Linked DNA regions of Homo sapiens. The protein of the gene in region 2 interacts with the protein of the main gene of each other region in a pairwise test. Each region holds a gene or a part of one and is shown on either strand. Other genes may lie near its edges.

Region 1 (7,377 bases), about 46 Mb from region 2:
GTACTTGGATATAAAATGTGACCCCTGCCCTGGGTTGCTTGGTATGGCCATAGGGGAGGGCCTGGCCATTGTGACCCTCAAAACCCAACCCGACATCCCCCACCCTGTTTATCTCACCCCACACTGAGTGCTGTCTGGGAGCGCCACACCAGGCTACACTCCCGGCCTCAAATACCACCTTACTGTCCCCTCCTGCCCTCTCCTGGCCCACCTCAAGCCCAGCCCTGCCGGTCTGTCCCAACAGCCAGCTGAGGCCTGCATCTGGTCCTCACTAGTCTGGGCTCCTGGGGTAACGTGTAGCTGCCATGCTGAGGGCATTGCAAGGCTGGGGGCCTGAAGGGACAACACACCTGAGCCCATGTCACGCTCACATGGCCCTGCAGGTCTATGGGGCCACCAGCAGGCCTCCCGTGAAATGACTGCAGCTGGTGGAGATTTGGATCCGCAAGTCCAGGTTCTCTGTGCTTGCCATGGCCCCTGCCTTTCTGCACCCCGGCCCTGCCTGCCCCTAGGAGCCCAGCCCAGGGCTGGTCGGACTGGCCACCCAGGCTGTGGTCACGAGGACCCGCTGCACATCTACCCCTGAGGCACTGTGTACCTCATGCCAAAGCCACCCCCTGCTCCAAACAGCCCTGCCCAGGGCATGGTTCTGAGCCTGTGATACCAGACAGCGTGTGCAGAAGCCTTGGGAAGGAGAGGAGGCCTCTGGGTCTGGAAAGCCTGTGTGGAGAAGGTGGAACTCCACTGGGTTCCTGGAGTGCAAGTGGGATCTCGGCAGCTGGCGAAGCCAGGGGGGTCGGTAGACGTGGGAACAGGCAGGGGACAGTATGTCCAGGGATGAGCAAGGGGCCAATGGGGCAGGAGAGAGGGCACACAAAGGCCATGGTGAGGCGGAGGGCAGGGCCTTGCAAACCAGGGGGCTTCACAGCCAAGGAGTGGGCAGGAGAGCAGGACTCAGGAGGCTTGGTCCAGGGCGGTGGGTGGCCCGACTCCACTGGAGGCGCCACGCGGAGGAAGCCCAGGCAGAGGCAACACTTGGGCAGGAAGAAGGGGAAGGGGGTGGGTGGGAGAAGGCTCAGGCTGTCGGGGACCGGGAGAAGGGTTATGAGGCCAGCCCCGTGAGGGCTTCCAGGCTTTGGGCCCGAGGGTCTGGAAGAATGGCAGCTTCAGCCAGAAGAGCCGTCTGCGGAGAGCAGCTCCAGACAGTGCGGACCTGGCCTGTGGACCCTGCCTGGCCTCTGACCTCGGCCTCGAGAGGGGGCTCTTATCCGCTTCCACTGGGCACTGTCCTTCCAGGAAGGGCTGCAGTGGACTCCCGGGCCTCGGCCCCTGATCTCACTTGGTTCCAGCCTTCCTCAGGAAAGGCCGAGCGAGATAGCACGAGCACAGCAGGGCTGCCATGAGCACGGTTCCAAGGCCGCGACCCCCTGGCCTGCTCCCCACCCTCAGAGGCTGGGAGGGGCCGCGGCCTCTTCCAAAGTTGTCTCCAGCAGGAAGCAGGGCACTGAAGACAAGGATGGGCCTAGGTGACCCTGAGTTCGCATCCTATGACTGCTTTGGAACAGACCCTGCCTGGATGGGAAGAGGGGGGCCCATGCCCCCCACCGGGGAGTGAGGATGCCCTCTGAGAACTGACAGGAGCTCCGAGGATGGGCCCCGCGTCCACACCAGCACACCCGCCCCTTCGGGCCACACGCCAGCTCATGTCCACCAGCCACCGTCAAGGACATGTTTCCCGGCATGTGGGACTCCCAGGGACACAGGAAACGGTGGACGGAGATTGTGGTGTTTCACACACAGCAAGGGCTTCATAAAAATCTCTTGAATTGAGAAAGACACGGTCCCTGCCCTTGGCACCTGCAGACAGGAGGCCTGGGCCCTGGGCGACCCTCAGGGCACAGGCTGTGCACTGGGAGACTGGAACGTGGAGAAAACCCCAAGGTCAGGGGCCTGCATCTCACCTGGGAGGTGGGCCAGGACATTTTGGTCCACAGAAGGGGATGAAAAAAAGCAAAAAAAAAAAAAAAAAAAAAAAAAAAGGTGCTGGTCAAGCGGAAGGTAGCGACAGGCAGATGCAGATGACAGGCAAAGCAATCCCAGCCTGTAGGGGTCACCCACCAGGAGCCGGGCATTGTCCCAGGAATGGGGGCCACCGGGCTTCAGCAGTAAGCCCCACTGAGCCCCAGACTTGCTTCTTAGGAGCCTGCAAAAATGGTGCCAGCTTGGCGGGACGCGGTGGCTCACGCCTGTAATCCCAGCACTTTGGGAGGCCGAGGCGGGCGAATCATGAGGTCAGGAGTTTAAGACCAGCCTGACCAACATGGTGAAACCCCGTCTCTACTGAAAATACAAAAATTAGCCCAGCATGGTGGCGTGCGCCTGTAGTCCCAGCTACTCAGGAGACTGAGGCAGAAGAATCGCTTGAACCCTGGAGACAGAGGTTGCAGTGAGCCAAAATCGTGCCACTGCACTCCAGCCTGGGTGACAGAGTGAGACTCTGTCTCAAAAAAAAAAAAAAAAAAAAAGGTGCCAGTTTGGCAGAGGGAATGGCCACCTAGGAGCCAGGGAGTAGCCACTGCCACTTTTCAACTGGACACACAAAGTCTCCAAGGGGGAAGCATGCTTGGTTCCCTGCCTGCGACAGCCAGGGGAACCTGCCGGGCAGGCCCTTTCTCCTTCCCAGGGGCTCTGCTGTCAGCCCCGGCCTGGGAACAGCAGGAAGCAGGACCCGGGGCTCTGAGGCCATCTCTCCCCTCAGCAGCCACGCCTGGGCATGGCCACCACATTCTTCCCAGCCCACAGCACTCCACTTTCTTCCTTAAAAAGAAAAAAATGTTTTTTAAATAAAATAAACAACCCCCCTCCCCCCAAGCAAGAAACCAAACACGAGGTCAGGCCTGAGCAGAGTCCTTGAATGGAAGGCCCCCAAAGTGGCAATTTTAGGGTTTCCTGTCTATTCCCATGGGTCTGGCCGCCAAGGGAACTGGCAGGTTGGAAGAACTTGCCACTGGGGGCAGCTCCTGCCAGGGTGGCAAGCACGGGCGAGCACAGGGGTGGGACAGCCTCCTGGACTGGGTCACCTTGTCTCCAACACTGCTCCCTGATACTGGCAGAGTCTGGAGTGGCAGTGAGCCCAGAGCGTGTCCCTGTCCCCCACCCAGGTCAGCAACCCTGAGATCCGGGGGAACGTGGCTCCCAAGATCTACTCTGGAGCATCAGGAGAACCAAGCGGCCTCAACAGTCCCAGATGGAAGGACGCTAAGGTTCCCAACACCTTTGGGCAAGGGCCTCAGAGTTGCCTTTGCTCTGGCCGTTGGACGGGTGCCTGGGTTCCAAGTGGCCCTCACCACCTGGTCACAAACTTGAAATGTCCAGTTTCCCCAGCTGTAAAATGAGGATGTCAATGAGATGCTGAATCGCCACCGTCACACTGGCCATTTACAAAGCCTGGGTGGACACGGCAGAAGGAGGGCTTCTAATATGCCAGGCTGGCCATGCTGCCCGCCGTGCCCCGCCTGCTGGGCCATGGGAGAGAGCCGCCAGAGCCCCATTTCTCAGTGCCCCACGGCTCACCGACAGTCCATGCTAGAATCACACAGTAACTGGTCTTGCTCAAGCCTCTGCTCCACATTTGCCGTGTCCTCGGAGAGGATGGGGCCTTGGAGGATGGGGCCTGTGGCCAGGGCTGAGCCGAGCAGGGTGGGACTCCTCTGCTCACAGACCAGCTTCAGGCACTGCATTGCTCTACTGCGGGCCCAGTGGGTAGAGCCCGTGGCTTGCCCTGCCAAAGTATCAAGGGCTCCTTGGCACAGAGGTACTTGGTGCCCACCCAGCTTTGGGAAGGAGCAGTCAGTCCCACCTTGGCACCCCTGCAGTTACAGCGGCCTGCACCAGCTCCTACTGCTCCCGGAGCAGGCTCAGCCCAAGACAGTGAGCAGCTGCAGCACTGAGCACTGGGTGACAGGGAAGGAGTGGGTGCTGAGGGAGCACTTCCGGTCCCTTCTGGCACCTCATGGTTCAGAAGAAATGCAAAGTCCAGGCCATCCTCTGTGGCCTGGGCTCTCTTAGGTGTCTCCTGCTCGGGGTCAGAGGCTGTAGCTGTGTGGACAGGAGGGGGTGACAAGTCAGAGACAAACACACTCTTGCTGATGGCAAGGAAGCTGGCTGGGCCACGTGCTCCGAGGCCCACAATGAGTTCGTGGCAAAGAAAATGTCCAAAGGCTCCCTGAGAAACGGCCTCCACTAGAGCACCCTCCATCCCCCCCTTGACCTCTGTGGAAGAGCTGGGTGCAGGGCTCAGAGGACCCTGACTTGTGCCCAGCCTCTGGCCTGGCTGCCCTCCCGTCCCTGACCAGGAGCTGTAGGAGACGAGCAGCCCCCTTCCCTGGAACCCAGGATGGGAGGCAGCCTTGGCTGGCAGCTGGCAGCCAGGGGCCATGCTTCCTGTGCCCCTCATGTGACAGTGATGCTAAAGCTTTGCCACGCCAGGACGGTGCAAGCTGGCATGAAGGCTACAGGCCTGGCAGGTCTGGTGCGGCCACTCTGGGAACCGTCCCCTGGGAGATGAGCGAGCATTCACCAACCAGTGCAGCAGGGCCTGTGGCTGTGGCCGAGGTGCTCCCTGTGGCATTTCCAGGAAACCAGACACCAAGGTGCCAGCAGCAGAAGGAAGTCCCCTGGGGCTTCTTAATGTTTCTCAATGACTCTCCCTGGGGCGAACAAGGACGGGGCCACAGATCAAATAGGAAAGGCCAGCCCAAACCGGCAGGTCCAAGGTAAGCCCTGAGCAGGGGAGAGAAAAAGCCAGCTGGCCCCGCACACACAGCCAGGGTCTGCAGCAGCCTGGGCTCCGGAACGTCGTGTCGGCCACAAAGCAGCTCCCTTGCGGGGATGCTCAGGAAGAGGCACTCTGGCGGCCTTGTCAAATGTCACGGCTTCTTCACAAATATGACATGAGCACCCACACCCTGCAATTTACTGCTGACATGGAGACCGTAATCTGCATTACGCTAGAATGCACCAAGAACAAACTTCCAGAATTCCATGCCCTGTGGTTTCCAGGAGGGGGTTATCCCCCATCCCAAACACGAAATGGCTCTAGAGTCAGAAAATTGCCCCCACCTGGGAACAGAGCTGCCAACATGTTAATACCAGAAAACCCACTTCTGCCAGCATAGACGCGTCCTTTTGCAGTAAACAGCAAAGCAGAGAAGGGATATTACTGTTTTAGAAAAAAGCTGCAGTCAAACACCTCATTTTTAGTATCTCAGTTGCAGCAGAGTAGAAATAACGTGAATATAGCTCCATCCAGCAGTGGAAACTGACCCATGGGGAGCCGGCGGGGAGTAGGGAAGGGGCCCAGGAAGAAGGGGCAGGTGTGAGGGAGGCTGTGCATCCTCAAGGGCTACACTGTGCTTTTGGTTCCCACTGTGTGTTCCGAGGCAAGAGCATACCCTGAAAGCAACAGCCAAGCGCGTGGAGCCCAAACCCACCAGCCTGAGCACTCAGTCCCTCTGCCAAGCCCACCTGGGTGCAACCTAGGCACGGGGAGGAAACACTGGCTGCGGAGCGCTCCTGTACCTGACGTCACCGGGAACTTACTACTAGGAATTGATTGTGCATTAATAGGACACCTCATTCTGGGTTAACAGCCCAGGTTCCCCTGCACAGATTCCAACCTGCATTGCTCACACTCCCTTCAAATCCATTTACCCAGGTAACGGCAGGCGGGCGACTTAATGGCAAATAAGTGAAACGCATGCTCTGGAAAGGAAAACAGACGGGAAAGACATCCCAGAGACCCATTCCTGGGGAACGGCGGTGCTTCAAAGGCCCAGAGGGAGTGACTGCAGGAAAGATCATCTTGTTTGCAGGGAAAGGAGTTGGGAGAACGCTGCCACTGAAGTGGAAAGTTCTGGGTAAGGGACAAAGGCTGGAAGCAGCAGGGTTTCAGCTGGTGCTGCAGGAGTGAAGGAAGGAGGGAGGGAGAGAGCTTCCCGCTGCACCCCTTCCCCCACAAATCGAGGGCAGGAAGTTCTGGCTGCGAAGAGTTAACAGGAACGAGGCAGCGGAGGAACAGGGGCAGGGTCTGGGGAGACAGGGAAGCCAGAAAGGGGCAGGAAGGAGGAAACTCTCGGTGGGGGAGGGACCAGGAAACAGCCAAGAAATCGGGAGGCTGCAAGAGGCACCCAGCTCCGACAATCTGCTGCTGGGGCTGCCACTGTCACCGGGGAGGGCAGAGGAACCTCCTGGGAGCGCCCAGGCAGGGCTCCTCAGCTAGGAGCCCAGAGATTAATTACACGAGGCCTCAGTGGTCATATTAAGCAAATGATGATAATTACAAGACTGCTGGCTGCTGGGAAAGGGAGACAGCAGTTCCTTCAGGGCAAGGCCCAGACCACAGACCCTGAGAGTGAAGGGGCAGCCGCCTCGTTTTACAGAGGTGGAAACTGAGGCAGGTCCAGTCGGGCTAAGGGACTCGCCTGGGTCCCATGTGAGCTGGTGGTAGAGGGAGAAGCCAGACCTCCCATCTTCCAGATACACAATGCTGCCTTACGCTACCTCCTTCTACAAGAAGGTCGGGGAAAGGGACTGTTTCCTTGGATTCTATAGGGTGACAGAAGGGGAGGCCCCTGTGCCAACTCAGTGTGGCACTGTGCCTAACCACTCCCATTCCCTAGCCTTTGGAACTCAGAGCTGTGATGCCAGCCCCAGTTCTTGGCCAAGACACATCCCCAGGCACCAGCCATGGAGGGGCTGCCAAGGTGGGCCACCTCAAGGTATGAACAATTCCCAGTGGCAACCTGTCACTGGGACAAGCCACAGCCCCTCTCCCTGACTCTGACCTTGACCTTGTGGGTATGGGGAAGACAGGCTCCTGCATCTGACGGGACCCTGGAGTGGGGCTGCCCCTCGGTGCAGTAGCTTTGCCACGGCAGCTCAGTTCTCCATCCCAGCCAACGGGAAGAGGGCTGAGCCTTGTGAACTGTGACAGCCGATGGCCCCAGACAAGGGGTGCCAGTCAGCCCACACCGCAAAATGTGGACAGAGGCGAGAACAGTGGTGTGCAGGGGTGGGTGGAGGGGATAAAGCACAGCAAAGAAACAGCACTGGCCTGTGTGGTCCAGAAACCCGAGGCCCCATTCCAGCTTTCTTCTGTGACGAGGACACGACTCCTCCCCTCCCTGAGCCTCAATAACTTCAACTGCTAAAGGGGAGAATCCTAACTGCTGGGCCTGCCTCTCACAGTTGTCAAAAGGACAAAACAGAGTAAAAAGCACTCTGCAAGTGGAAAAGTGTCAGGCAAACATGAAACATGGTCAGGATCACCACTGGGGCGGCGGGGGGCGGGGGGCGGCGTGCTCTGCCCCACTGGGT
Region 2 (7,377 bases):
CTCTCTTTAATGTAACTAAGCCAGCATTCATTTACTGATCAAATCCAGACCAGAGGAAACCTGGAGACTCAGTTGAACCACAAGTTAAAGATCAGGGGAAGATCCAGAAGGAAGGTTCCCTCATGCCCAGAGTGGCTCCTCTCGAACTTGCTTAGGGCATAGCTGCAGGCCCAGAGCAGGTACCTGTCAGTCCGGCCTGAAGGCTCCATCCCCCAACTCTGATGCCTTCGAGAGCTGGTTCATCCCGGCACCAACTCTGCTGAGGTAGGACATTTGGCACTTGCTCAAAATCTCAGAATACCTACATGTAGCTACTTAGTTTTTGCTGTTGCTGCAATATTTCTGAATAATGTTAAAAAGATAAGCTTCCTTGGGTACCTTTCAGGAGCTGGGAGCCTTTTTATGAAAAGACTGTACAGCTTCCTGAATACCTTTTTTTCTGTGTCTGCCTGGGTAACACCTCCCTCCGCTATTCTGGTTCAGCCTAGGAAGAACCAAATCTCAGGAGAAGGGAAGTTTAGGGGCATTTCTGCAGGCTAATGGGGTCAAACCACAGTTCATCTCTCTGTTACCCTTGTTCCCTGTGTCCTCTATGTACAGCTTACATGATGAAGGGTGTCCTTCCAGTGGGGAATCTCCCCTTCCCTAGCATGCATGGCAGAAGAGTTCCTACATTAGCTGGTTAGTCTTCCCCAAACGAGGAGATGCACACTGCAAGTAACTACATGCTAAAGAACAGAGCTGACCGGAACTAGAGATTTAACTCTGCAACAGCTACCTGTGGGACATGCCCATGGCTCGGAACCAAAGTTCATGCTACGTTTTGACTATGGCAGCTGCTGCAGGAGCCTCCCTGGCCAGTCCTCCTATTCCCCTCCAGCTACCAAGCTGACAGACAAGAAGCAAGGAAGCAACTGAGCTCAATTCCTTTATCTCCTAAAAGCAAATATGAAAATCCTTTCAGGTTCTTTTTCCTTTCAAGGTGTTTTGAATAGTGGCCTGGTGGGGCTGTGGTCACTTTCCCGGCATCCTGGCTGAAGGTGAGGCGGGGCTATAGCGTGTTATTCAGGGCCCATCTGCAGACTTCCACCATGCTTGGCTCAGCAAACACCATCTTTGCCGTGGGGTAATCATCACACACAAAAATTAATAAATAAGCACAATTTCCAAAGACACAGAAGTTGCATGCTCTAAAACAGGAAGAGTGTTAGCCTCTTGGAGTAACCTACAGACGTTAACAACAGCACAACTAGACTAAGGTCAGTGTGGTTAGGGCCCAGACAATATCATCTACTTCAGCCTCTAGGGGACAAAAAAGGGACCAGAACTAAATTACGAACTAGAACTAGCAGATGTTAACGCTATGGAAACAGGTAATGAGGTATGAAGAGGCACTTACGTGGAGGAGGGCTATCTGCATTTCCCATGGATGGAACACAGACGAAAAGAAAAAACAAGAGACAGACCCAAGAAAAAAAAAATAAGATGTAAAAGAAATGAATAGAATCCGCAGAGCACATGGAGCTGGAAACTCAAATTATCAAATTACTTCAAATCCAGAGAAAGAAGCCACTCCTGTAGAAGGAAGATGAGACAGGCTTTCCTATTTCTGGGAAGAGGTAAGGGCAGTGGGTCCCTTTGCAGGCCCCTGGCTTCAAAAAGAAGGAAGCAAAGGATTCTCCCAGGTGCATTTTAAATCCAGGGGTCAGAGAGCCCAGGGAACTCTGTGAACACTCAGAAATTTAGTTCTACGGTATCTTCTTTAGCTGGGTGGACTCAGGAGCTTCCCAGGGTAGTATCTCTGTCTGCAAAGGGGTATGACAGGAGCAGGGCTTGCCCACAGCCTGGCTGCTGGTGGGAAGGGAGGGCAAAGTGGGATAGGCGTAGTTAAAAGAAAGAGGGAATGGCCGAGGAAAACCTAGAGATACATCCCTGAGTGGAATCAGGGGGAAGCAATTCTCTTGAAAGAGGCCGTGAGGAATGCTCTTGCTATGGGAGGGAGAGGAGCAGAAAAGGCCAAGGCCAGGGCTACCTCTTCCCCTTGGCTTTGCTGGGTTTCTGCTGCTGCTCACATATTCTATAGCAGTTTCCATTTGTCTCTGACTTAATATCTCTGCTGCATCAAAGATCCCGCAATGCATTATGTGAACTGTCACCATCTTTACCCTCTTCCTGCAAGTCACAGGGTGCTTAGGGCTTCTGTGGCCTGTCGAAAAGCAACTTTCCCAGATCCTTTGACAACTCACTCCTGGTTTTCTCCCCACTTCCTTTAATAATGTGTTGGTGCCTTCCCCTTCACTGTTATTCTAACAAGCTGGACCGGCTACTAGGACAGTGTCCCCAACCCCTTGGAGAAAGAGAGAATGAAGGGACTGTGTGTTAGCTGTCACTGAGAACCAGAGAACTAGGAGGTGGGGCCTCCAGGAGCAGAGGGATCTGAAAGACAAAAAGCTGTGGTCTGAACAATGACATGGGCCAGCTCAGGGTTCCCCACTGCCCCCAGGGAGAAGAAGGTGGGCTGGGAAAAGGGGGGCAGCTGGCTTTACTTACGGACTGGCTGCGTCTTGAACTCGGAGGCCGCGCTGATCTCACCCAGCCCTTTGCCATTGAGCGCCGCCAGCCTTACGGCGTACGTTGTTTCGGGCTTCAGGCCCACGATGGTGACGATGCCCTCCATGCTGGCTGTTATAATATGGGAAGGATGACAAAAGAGTCTATTGTTAAAATGGTGCAGCCGCTCTGAAAAACAGTAGGGAGGGTCCTGAAAAAATTAACTGTAGATTTATCATTTGGTCCAGCAATTCTATTTCTGGGCATATGCATAGAATTGAAAGTCGGGACCAAACAGATACAGATACCTGGCTGTCCATGTTCACAGCAGTATCATTCACAATAGCCGAAAGGCAGACCCAAATGACAGATACAGATGGCAGACCAAACAGATACAGATACCTGGGCTACCCATGTTCACAGCAGCATCATTCACAATAGCCGAAAGGCAACCCAAATGACCACTGACTGATGAATGGATACATGAAATGTGGCATAGACATACAATGGAATGTTATTCCACCTTAAACAGGAAGGAAATTCTGACACATGCTACAACATGGATGAACCTTGAAGATATTATGCTAAGTGAAATAAAATAAGCTAGCCACAAAAGGACAAATGCCATATGAGTCCACTTATGTGAGGTACTTAGAATAGCCAACTACATAGAGACAGAAAGCATGGTGGTTGCCAGGGGCTGGGAGGAGGTAGTGAATGAAGAGCTAGTGTTTAATGGGTACAGAGTTTCAGTTTGGGATGATAAAAAGTTCTGGAGATGGATGGTGGTGATGGTTACAACTTAATGCCACTGAATTTTACACTTAAAAATGATGGAACGTAAAATGTATGTTATGTATATTTTATAATAAAAATAACTAGAATTGATCTTTAAAAAAAAAAAAAAGTCGGGTGGACAGATAGTGACATGAGATCAACCTGCCACAAAATTGGTATGAGATTTCAGAGGGAAGTTAGGAAGGCAAAGTGATTGCTTTCTTCTGGCTCCAATCCTGATTACCCAGCAGCTCCTCTCGGCCCCCTGGCTCCCCCGAGAAGCTGAAGAAGTGATGGAAACTTTCTGGCAGAACTAATTCTGAGTGAAACTGCACTGGACTATGTCTCTGAATGGCTGTGATACTGATATCCCAGCCTACTTCCAATTCCACTCGAATTACCACATACGAGACCAGGATTAAAAATTTGTACAGAAACAAAACATACTTCACTGAGTTATTCCAATTAAACCCAAAAAGGGGAGTCCAACATAAGCACACATTATCCTCAGATGATCTGGGCTCAGAATCTTCACACTGCAGTAATCCAAGGGTCAGTCTTTTAATCTTTAGCTTGGAAAGCTAGCACAGGACTGATTTAAGGGCAGACTTGTCCTGCTGGCTGTGCTTATTTGGTTACTATCACAATTACAAGACAGCCAGTCCCTGAGTACAGATATCCAAGCAGGACTGGCCGGGTGTCGGCAGAGAACCTGCAGCACAGGTAACTCAAACGTGCAGAGTAGGATGGATTAGACTCATCTGGCCATGCTCAGAACCTATGGGCTGGACTCATCTGGCTGCGCTCAGAACCTACACAAGGTTCCTGCCTGGAATGTGGTACAGATGCCTTCATCCATACTGGAAGGGTCATGAGAACCAGGCTCTGAAGCACAGAGCATGGGTTGGGGTGGCAATAGGGGCAACAACTCTACAGGCAGATATGACTTTGACCTAATTCTGGAGGTGCAGTTCCTGATTCTGTAGGAACATGCCCAGGATGGCAGGTGGGGACATCTGAGTACTGAGGCACTCATGATCCCAATGGAAACACCAACTCGCCCAACTCACCTTCCTTGGCATCATACCACTTGGAATGCCATACTTCTTCACCAACTGCTCTCCACTCAGCTTTGTATTTGAGGATGGGCACCCCACCTGTGGCCTCTGGTTCATCAAACTGCACCTGGGCTGTGCTGGAGTATGGCTCCACCTGGTCGATGGATGGTGAAGAGGGGGTGTCTGTGGGGAAGACACATATGGAGACTCAGGTGAGCCCAGTTTGGCCCAAGACCATTAACTCTCAGTCACAAGGCACATCTCTGTCATTTCTGCTCACTCTTGGGAATCCTGTCACTGTATCCTGTCCTCCTGGCCCATCTCACCAGATGCTTCTCCCCCAACATGCCCCATGCGCTGATCCAATGGCTCCCAGCTTCCCAACTCTCTGGCTTTGCTGACCCTGGCCCTTTCTTCTTCCCAATATCCTGGAATCACTCAAGTACACAAATTGGGCTGGCAGGGTTAGGTGGGGGGTTGTGGCAGCTGCTCTCAGGTGAGTAAGGGACACTCACCTGCTTGAACAAGGATGAATTCCAAGGACTCCTGCCCAATGCGGTTCACTGCAGTACAGTTGTAGTTCCCAAAATCATTCTCAGAGTCTGGGGTCACCTTTAGAAGGAAGAAGCTATTGGGTTACAAGTGTCCTATGGGATGGTCACAGACTCAGATCTTTATTTACTGAATTAAGTTAGTAAAAAACAGAACTAGTAAAGTATAAATCATTAGCTCCAGCCCAGCCTTAAACAAGAGAAAAGAATAGCAGAGGGGCTCATGGGAGAGGCACATTCAGGGAGGGGACTGGTAGAGTGGGCGAAGGGGAGCTGAAAAGAGGCTCAGTGTCTTCTCTAGCCCATGCCTTCCCTGCTCAGGATGTGCCAGAGAAGCAGGAGAGAGGACTTGAGCTGCATTTTGGAGCCCACCTAGAGTCAAACTGTGCTTTCTCTGCTCTGTCCCACCCCCATCCTGACTCACCTCCAGATAGCTGGCAGAGGGGGTGTTGTAGATCTTGATATTGCTGTAATTGGAGCTTGGCAGCAGCTGGCCATCCCGAAACCATGAGATCGTGGCACTGGGATAGGCAAATACCTCGCAGGTGATGTTCACCTGGTTCCCCTCCCAAGTGTACACAGCCACAGGGCCCTGTAGCTTTGGGGCATCTGCAATAAATAACAATGACTGTCAGGATGACTGCCATGATTATGAAGCCCCCATATCCTGTCTCCTGGCACTGGGAAGGCAGGTGTGCTCCAAAGCAGAGCCAGCGCCTGGTATAGTAGAGGTCAGGGCCATTCTAGAATTCCTGTGCACAGCATGGGAAGAAGACTCAAGGGCACAGCAGGCTTGTAAGAAGCCTGGAGATGGTGTGTAGGGGGTGGCTTGGGAACAGAGCTCTGAAATAGCCCAGGGTCAGCTGCAGGGAACGTAAGCAGAACACACAGGGTGCACATAGGTCCTTGCTGATGTTTTCCTCTCTCATCCTGACCCTGCCTTGCCCCTCCCTCCCCCAGGTCCTTCCCCATTTATTCCTTACATTGCACTTCAAGGTACATGGACTGGGAGTCCTGGCCGATGGTGTTGCTGGCGGTGCAGATGTACTCTCCGGCATCAGTGTACTGGATGCTCTTCAGGGTCAGCGACGACACACGGGCATGGCTACGCACCACCATGTGCCCATCCAGAGTCTGCCGGGGGTGGGGGGGAAGGGAGCATGTCAGAGCCCAAGGCAGGGTGAAGGGCAACAGTGCTATGGCAGGATGGGGGCTGGGAGACTAGGCCATCACTTGTCTGTGACCCGTCTCACTTCCTCTCTCCTCTCTGTGTCAATGGCTTTCTTACTTTAGGTACCATCTAATGGGGGAGGCACTGGGAAGCAGCATGAGAACCTGGGAGTATCCGAAACAGAAAATGAGACTCAGTTATGTCAGGCAGCCTGATCTAAGTACCAAGATTGGTTTGGGGCTAGGTCCCCCAAGATGACTTTGTTTGGGATGTCTAAAATGGAAGCAAAGCCTCCGGCCAGCAGATATTGCAGCAGCAGCAGCAGCAGCCCTACCTCATGAGATCCTGGGAAACCTGCACTGCCAGCCTGTCCTTTCTGTCTGCCCACTTGCCAGTTCCATGGTGCATGTACCTGTGGCAGGACATTCCAAGTGCCCAACATAAGAAATTATTAAAGAAATCCTTATTTCTGCAGATGCCTCTTTCCTGGATGTTTAAAAGTGAAATAATCACATGTAAAAACAAGCCAAACAACTCAAAGATCAGGAGCCACTGCACTGGAAGTGAGAGTAACTGGGTTCTCTCTCCAGGGACAATGGCACAGAGAGTCCTAGGCAGGTCTGGGATCCTTGACACCTTGGCCACCACCATTTTATAGTCCTTGATACAGCAATGGGCTTCCTAAATCTCTGGAATTATAATGATTGGTCAAAAAGAGAATAAGCACATAGTCCTTAGGCAATGGGTACTGGAGTATTTCCAAGGGGATTTCCCCTTGACATTCTAAGTAAAATGGTTGCTGGCCCAGGAAGAGTCTAGGCATGTGGCTTAACTTCAGATCCTCAAGAAAGTTAGTGATCTGGAGAAAGGGTCTTGTTCTGGGTAGGCTGGGCCCTCTTGTCTCCAGTATATGATGTTCTGTAGGGATGGACAGGAGGTTATATTCTGCACCTGGCATCTGCCATCCCATGCGTTGGGTCTTTAAAGAATGACAGAACAATTGGCTTCAGGTTCTTTGGATATGCTGGTTTGGGGCCCTGAAGCCCAGAATTGCAATGTCATACAGCAGCCAGATTAGGAAGCTCACAAGCAAGGCATCACTAGCCTTGTTCAGCAGTCTCAGCAGATTTACCAATGAAAAGTCCCTTGGACCATCACTGACAGATCTAGCCTATTCCGGTCATCTGAGCCCCAATGCATTTCATGTCTGGAAGCTAAAAAACAACTCTAGCAAGAAGACAGAAGAGTCAAGCAAAGTCATGGCTGCCCA

The links.
Region 1: the proteins of NCAM1 (region 2) and GRK2 interact in binary tests that used the Homo sapiens proteins (3 or more experiments, as listed by UniProt).

Annotation. Positions count from the first base shown.
Region 1 is NC_000011.10:67,269,158-67,276,534, reverse strand, and holds part of GRK2 (beta-adrenergic receptor kinase 1), read right to left. Parts: intron 1-7,377. UniProt on the Homo sapiens protein: Specifically phosphorylates the agonist-occupied form of the beta-adrenergic and closely related receptors, probably inducing a desensitization of them. Key regulator of LPAR1 signaling.
Region 2 is NC_000011.10:113,230,338-113,237,714, reverse strand, and holds part of NCAM1 (neural cell adhesion molecule 1 isoform 2 precursor), read right to left. Parts: intron 6,520-7,377; coding exon of another isoform or gene 6,442-6,519; intron 6,071-6,441; coding exon 5,920-6,070; intron 5,546-5,919; coding exon 5,361-5,545; intron 4,998-5,360; coding exon 4,901-4,997; intron 4,569-4,900; coding exon 4,398-4,568; intron 2,683-4,397; coding exon 2,551-2,682; intron 1,415-2,550; coding exon of another isoform or gene 1,400-1,414; intron 1-1,399.